Linked DNA regions of Homo sapiens: region 1 is linked to region 2. Evidence: fine-mapped expression QTL. A gene starts in region 2. The other region holds a variant in brackets. All regions are shown on one strand. Distances are between the middles of the regions. Region 1 has its middle 24 kb from the start of NEK6. Region 2 holds the start of NEK6 (NIMA related kinase 6).

What was found.
Region 1: its variant is fine-mapped to the expression of NEK6 in whole blood (TOPMed, PIP 0.93).

The regions. Positions count from the first base shown.
Region 1 is chr9:124,232,174-124,235,074 of GRCh38, reverse strand. No RefSeq gene overlaps it. Among named protein-coding and RNA genes, the nearest start is that of NEK6, 24 kb to the left of the region's middle. The variant G/A (reference allele first, on the strand shown) is at 1,393.
Region 2 is chr9:124,256,663-124,259,563 of GRCh38, reverse strand. NEK6 (NIMA related kinase 6) reads right to left here and starts at 1,615. Exons shown (of 10, transcript NM_014397.6): 1 at 1,479-1,615. LOC613206 (a long non-coding RNA gene) reads left to right here. Exons shown (of 2, transcript NR_149024.1): 2 at 70-354. RefSeq lists an enhancer at 53-998 and silencers at 1,036-1,405, 1,466-1,595.

The DNA.
Region 1 (2,901 bases), 24 kb after region 2:
CTGAGTTCATAGAATTAGTTAGGAGTTTTGCTCTCTCCTTCTACGTTCTGGAAGAGTTTCTGTAGAATTAATATTTCTTTTAAAATAAATTTAACTAATAAAATTCACCAGTGAAGCCATCTGGGCTGGGAAATTTTTTCATGAGAAAGTTTTTACTATGAATTTCTATTCCTTAATTGATGTATAGGACTATTTGGGTTTTCTGTTTCTTCTTTTTTTATGTATATCAAAAATAGACTTTATTTGGCAATGGCGTATTTCAAGCATGAACACCATATTTTGGAAAACAATAGATTTGACACATATTTGTTACCTAATGTTTTCACAGCAGAAGGCTAGAACAAAATTTGACTTGCTTTCCACAGCTTTTAGAAATTTTTAACCGAGAATATCACTAAACAGCATGAAAGACATTTTCTTGGTGAGGCACTACTTTGCCAATCTTTTTTCACTCCTTTTTTTTTCCTTTCCATGTTTCTTTCTCAGCTTTTCTTACTATTTTTGCTTGGTTTTTAATACTTCAGCCTATTTCATAGACCTCCCAGTGACACCCTTAGGTGTTGCTTTATTTAAACAGTGTACTCAAAGCCAAACATATTATGGCTGGACACAGTGGCTCACGCCTGTCATCCTGGCACTTTGGGAGGCCGAGGAGGAAAGATCACTTGAGGTCAGGAGTTTAAGACCAGCCCGACCAACATGGTAAAACCCCATCTCTACTAAAAATACAAAAATTAGCTGGGTAGGTGTGATGTCACACACCTGTAATCCCAGCTACTCGGGATGCTGAGCCAGGAGAATCACTTGAACCCAGGAAGTGGAGGTTGCAGTGAGCCAAGATTGCTTCACTGCACTCCAGCCTGGGCCACAGAATGAAACCCTGTCTTACAAAAAAAAAAAAAAGACCGGGTGTGGTGGCTCACGCCTGTAATCCCAGCACTTTGGGAGGCTGAGGTGAGTGGATCACTTGAGGTCAGGAGCTCAAGACCAGGCTGCCCAATATGGCAAAACTCTGTCCCTTCTAAAAATACAAAAATCAGCTGGGCGTGGTGGCACACACCTGTAATCCCAGGTACTCGGGAGGCTGAGGCATGAGAATGGCTTGAACTGGTGAGGTAAAGGTTGCAGTGAGCTGAGATCGTGCCACTGCATTCCAGCCTGGGCAACAGAGCTAGACTCTGTCTCAAAAAAAAAAAAAAAGCCAACACATTTTATTATTTCAATGCTGATGACAGTTTTATTGGTTTTGCTACATATATGCTAACATGAAATCACTAACATACATATTCACATAATAAAATTTTAGGCCGGGCGTGGTGGCTCATGCCTGTAATCCCAGCACTTTGGGAGGCTGAGGCAGGAGGATCACAAGGTCAGGAGATTGAGACCATC[G/A]TGGCTAACATGGTGAAACCCCGTCTCTACTGAAAATACAAAAAATTAGCCAGGCGTCGTGGTGGGTGCCTGTAGTCCCAGCTGCCGGGTAGGCTGAGGCAGGAGAATGGCGTGAACCTGGGAGGTGGAGCTTGCAGTGAGCCTAGATGGCACCACTGTACTCCAGCCTGGGCGACAGAGTGAGACTCCGTCTCAAAAAAAAAAAAAAAAAAAAAAAATTAACTGCTAGTTTCTCAAACTAAAAGAGAGAAAAAGTAATGTTTTCCCTCTTTTTTTAAACTTGTATTTTTGGTTTGGGGGTACATGTGAAGGTTTGTTACATAGGTAAACATGTGTCATGGGGGTTTGTTGTACAGGTTATTTCATCACCCAGCTATGAAGCCCAGTACCCAATAGTTATCTTTTCCGCTTCCCTTTGTTTCTTCTTGAGAACTTTGCTAGTTTGTGTCTTTCAAGGAATATGCCCACTTCATCTAAGTTGTCAAATTTGTGGTCATAACTTTGGGCACAATACTTCCTTATTATCTTTTTAATGGTCACAGGATGTGTAGGGATGCCCTCTCTTTCTTTCTTTTTTTTTTTTTTTTTTTTTTTTTTTGAGACAAGGTCTTGCTCTGTCACCCAGGCTGGAGTGTAATGGCGCTATCATAGCTCACTGCAGCCTTGACCTCCTAGACTCAAGGGATTCTCCCACCTCAGCCTCCCAAGTAGCTAAGACTACAAACATGAGCCACCACACCCAGCGAATTTTTTTACTTTTTGTAGAGACAGGGTCTCGCTGTGTTGCCCAGGCTGGTTTTGAATTCCTGGCTTTAAGCAATCCTCCTGCCTCAGCCTCCCAAAGTGTCAGGATTACAGGCAGAGCCACTGCACCCAGGCTTTCATTTTTCTTGTTGGTAATTTGTGTCTTTTTTTTTTTCTTTGAGATGGAGTCTTGCTCTGTCGCCCAGGCTGGAGTGCAGTGGCACTGTCTCGGCTCACTGCAAACTCCACCTCCTGGGTTCAAGCAATTCTCCTGCCTCAGCCTCCCGAGTAGCTGGGACTTCAGGCACACGCCACCACATCTGGCTAATTTTTTGTATTTTTAGTAGAGACGGGGTTTCACTACATTAGACAGGATGGTCTCCATCTCCTCCCCTCGTGATCCTCCCACCTCGGCCTCCCAAAGTGCTGGGATTACAGGCATGAGCCACTGCACCTGGCCCGTGACTTTCTCTTTTCTACTGATTGAAGATGAAGTTTATCAATGTTGTTGATGTTTTCAAAGAGGCAGCTTGTGGTTTCATTTATTTTCTCTCTTGTTTTTCTGTTTTCTAGTCATTGATTTCTACTCTTATCTTATTATTTCTTTCTTTCTACCTGCTTTGGGTTTAATTTGCTCTTCTTTATCTAGTTCCTAAAGGTGGAAGCTTAGCAAATGTATTTATTTTGGGACTTTCTTCCTTTTGAATAAAGCCATTTAATGTTATAACTTTCCCTTTATTGTATTGCTTTATCTGTATCACATAG
Region 2 (2,901 bases):
GGTGTTTTCTTTTTTTCATTTTCAGGAGAAAAAAGAAAAAGAATGTGGGTCTTTTTTGCTTCCTTCCAGGTTTTGTTTGCTAAAAGAAGACGTCCAAAGTTCATTCGGTAAGCTCAAACTCGCTGAGTCCAAACTCGCTGAGTCCGGGGCAGGCGCTTCCAGACGGCTCTGCGTCCCTTTCAATGAAATTCTTCTTCCATTAACGACAGGGTTTTTAAACGTGCCTCCAAGACCTGCCTGCACGTACTGTACACCAAACTAAGGCGACATTTTCCCCCAAAAAAGGCAAGCTGAATTTGGAAAAGTCAGACCAACTAGGGAGCTCTGGAATTTCTAAAGTTTGCCTTAAAGCAATTAAGACTTTCAGCTGCAAAGATTTTCAACAGTTAGAGAGCACGCACACACACAAAAGCCTGTCAGTCAAAACTGCAAGGACAGACCTCGGAAGCTGGTGTCCCAAGCCCGCTGTGATCAATTTGTTACTGTCCTGGGATTCACACTTGGAGCCTAGGAGAGGTATAAATAAATCAAAAGATCCGTCTACTTAGCAGGGCAGGCAGAGAGGCCCCCACATACACAGGCAAGTCTAGGGTCAGCCCCCCAGGCCTGGCTGGAGAGAGACAAGAACAAAGACAGGAGAGCCTGGAGGATATTTAGGAAAACACACGTCCTCGGGTGCCCGGCCGAGGGGCCCACCACAGCCTCCGCTCGCCCAGCCTGTGTATGCAGAGAGGGTCCTGCCAGTGGCCCTGCCGCAGCCTGGCTCTAAGACCTTTGCCTCTGTCAGGCCCAGCCAGGCTCTGAGTCTGCCCTCCTGGCCCCTGGTTCACCGGATCAGGCCCAGCCCCGACCCCCAGCCCATGCCAGGCCGCTTCTCTCTCCACGGGCTCCCTGGCTCGGGGGCCATCACTGTGCAAAGGCCTGGTGGGCGCAAAGGGGGCCGGCCCCTCAACCTCAGTAATAAACACGCTCGCACGGCCCTGCACACTCGTTATACTCACACCCACACAGGCATACTTTCGCCCTTCTAGGCTCACGCATGTGCTTGCACACAAATCACTTTGGAATGCACACACGTGCACACACACACTCCCTGAGACCCGCACGTACTCCCTGCGGCGCCCGGCACACTCCTCCGCCCGTCGTCCCCACTCGGGAAGTGGGTAGCGGGGAGCCATGCCCGCGTCCCCGCACGCACTCACCCCAACAACGCCACCAGACGCTCCGGGGTGCACACGCACACCCGCCGGGGACGCGCACACCCCGGGACACGCGGACACGCCGCCCCCGCCCGCCCGGCCGCCGACACGCTCAGCCCCGCGCGGCCACACTCGCGCCCGCCTCCCGCTCTCCCCCGCGGAGCCGTGGGCGCGCGCCCGCCCTCGGCCCGGCTGGGGGTGACGGCCCCGCCGCCCGGCCCCCGCCCTTCTCCGGGCCGCGGGGCCCCACCGGCCCGGCCCCAGCCCCAGGCGACTCACCGGCGCGCGGGCGGGCTCGGCTGCCGCTGGGGGACCGGTGCGCTGGCCCGCGGGCGGCTGGAGCGGTGCGTCCCACACGAGTTTGCGGCGCAGCGGCCGCACGCCCGTCAGCTCGGTTCCGCCGCCGCCGCCACCGCCTGCGCGGGCCCGCGCGCCCGCGCGCCCGCCCCTCCCCGCCGCGGGGCCGCGCCGCCCCCAGCGCTCGTGCGCGCTGCCGCCACGCAAGCTTGAGGGGCGGGGGGCGCCCCGGCGGCGTCCTTCCTGGGCCTGGACCCCTCGACTCCGCCGAGTTCTGCGGCCGATCCGCTCGGCCGAGGAACCCCTTCCCCATTTCAGAGATGGGAAGACTGAGGCCCAGACTCACAGGGCGCAGGCCGGCGTCTCCCCATCTTCTCCGGCTCTAGACTTATGATGAGGGTCTGCAGTCAGCCAACCCTTGGACTCCTGTGCGTCTTCGGATTCCCCATCGCCTAGCATTGCTCCTACCACAGCCCTAGTCATACTGAAATTGGCACAGTAACAAGCACTTATTGTGCACCAGCTGAATGCAGGCACTGAAGTAGGCTCCAAGAGTATTCCGATGAGGGGAAGGCCCTGCCCCCTGCCCTCAAAGTGCCAGCGACTCTTCATCTGGAGCTCCCACTTCCTGTGGCCCCCGGGGGACCAGCAAGAGCCAATGTGCAGAGGTTTCTGGAAGTAGTAAAAGTCCCCACTAAAGAATGTTGAACGCCCCCTCTAGAAGTCAGAGCCTCCCTGAGACCCAAGCAGCTCAGTTCTCACTTCACCTCCTCCCCGCACCGAGAGCGGCCGCTCCTGGCTGGGCTGTTTCCACCCCTGCTGCCTCCCCTCCACATTCAAAACTGTGCTGCACCCCAGGAGGGCTGGAGCCAGGGACACTGACTGCCTGCTTGGGCGCAGCACTGTACTGGGCACAGGGTGAATGCCCGTCTGGCTTCTGTTTGCCAAATGAGTGGAAGTGCTTCAACTGGCCGTGATCTGTAATAATGACACCAACGGAGCGTCCACCACGTGTGCCAACGTTACCCTTGTGCCCATTTTACAGATGGGCTTTGAGGCTTAGAAATGAAATTTCAGGCTGGGTGCGGTGGCTCACACCTGTAATCCCAGTACTATGGGAGGCTGAGGTGGGAGGATGCCTTGAGGCTGGGAGTTTGAGGCCAGCCTGGGCAATATAGCAAAACCCCATGTCTACAGAAAAATGTAAGAATTAGCTGGGTGTGGTAGTGCCTGCCTGCAGTCCCAGCTACTCGGGACGCTGAGGCGGGAGGGTCTCTTGAGCATAGGAGTTAGCAGCTGCAGTGAGCTATGATCGCACCACTGCACTCCAACCTGGACAACAACAATAAAAAGCAAATTCTTTTGTTCAAAGTCACCCAGATGGTAAGTGGTTGAGCTGGAAAGT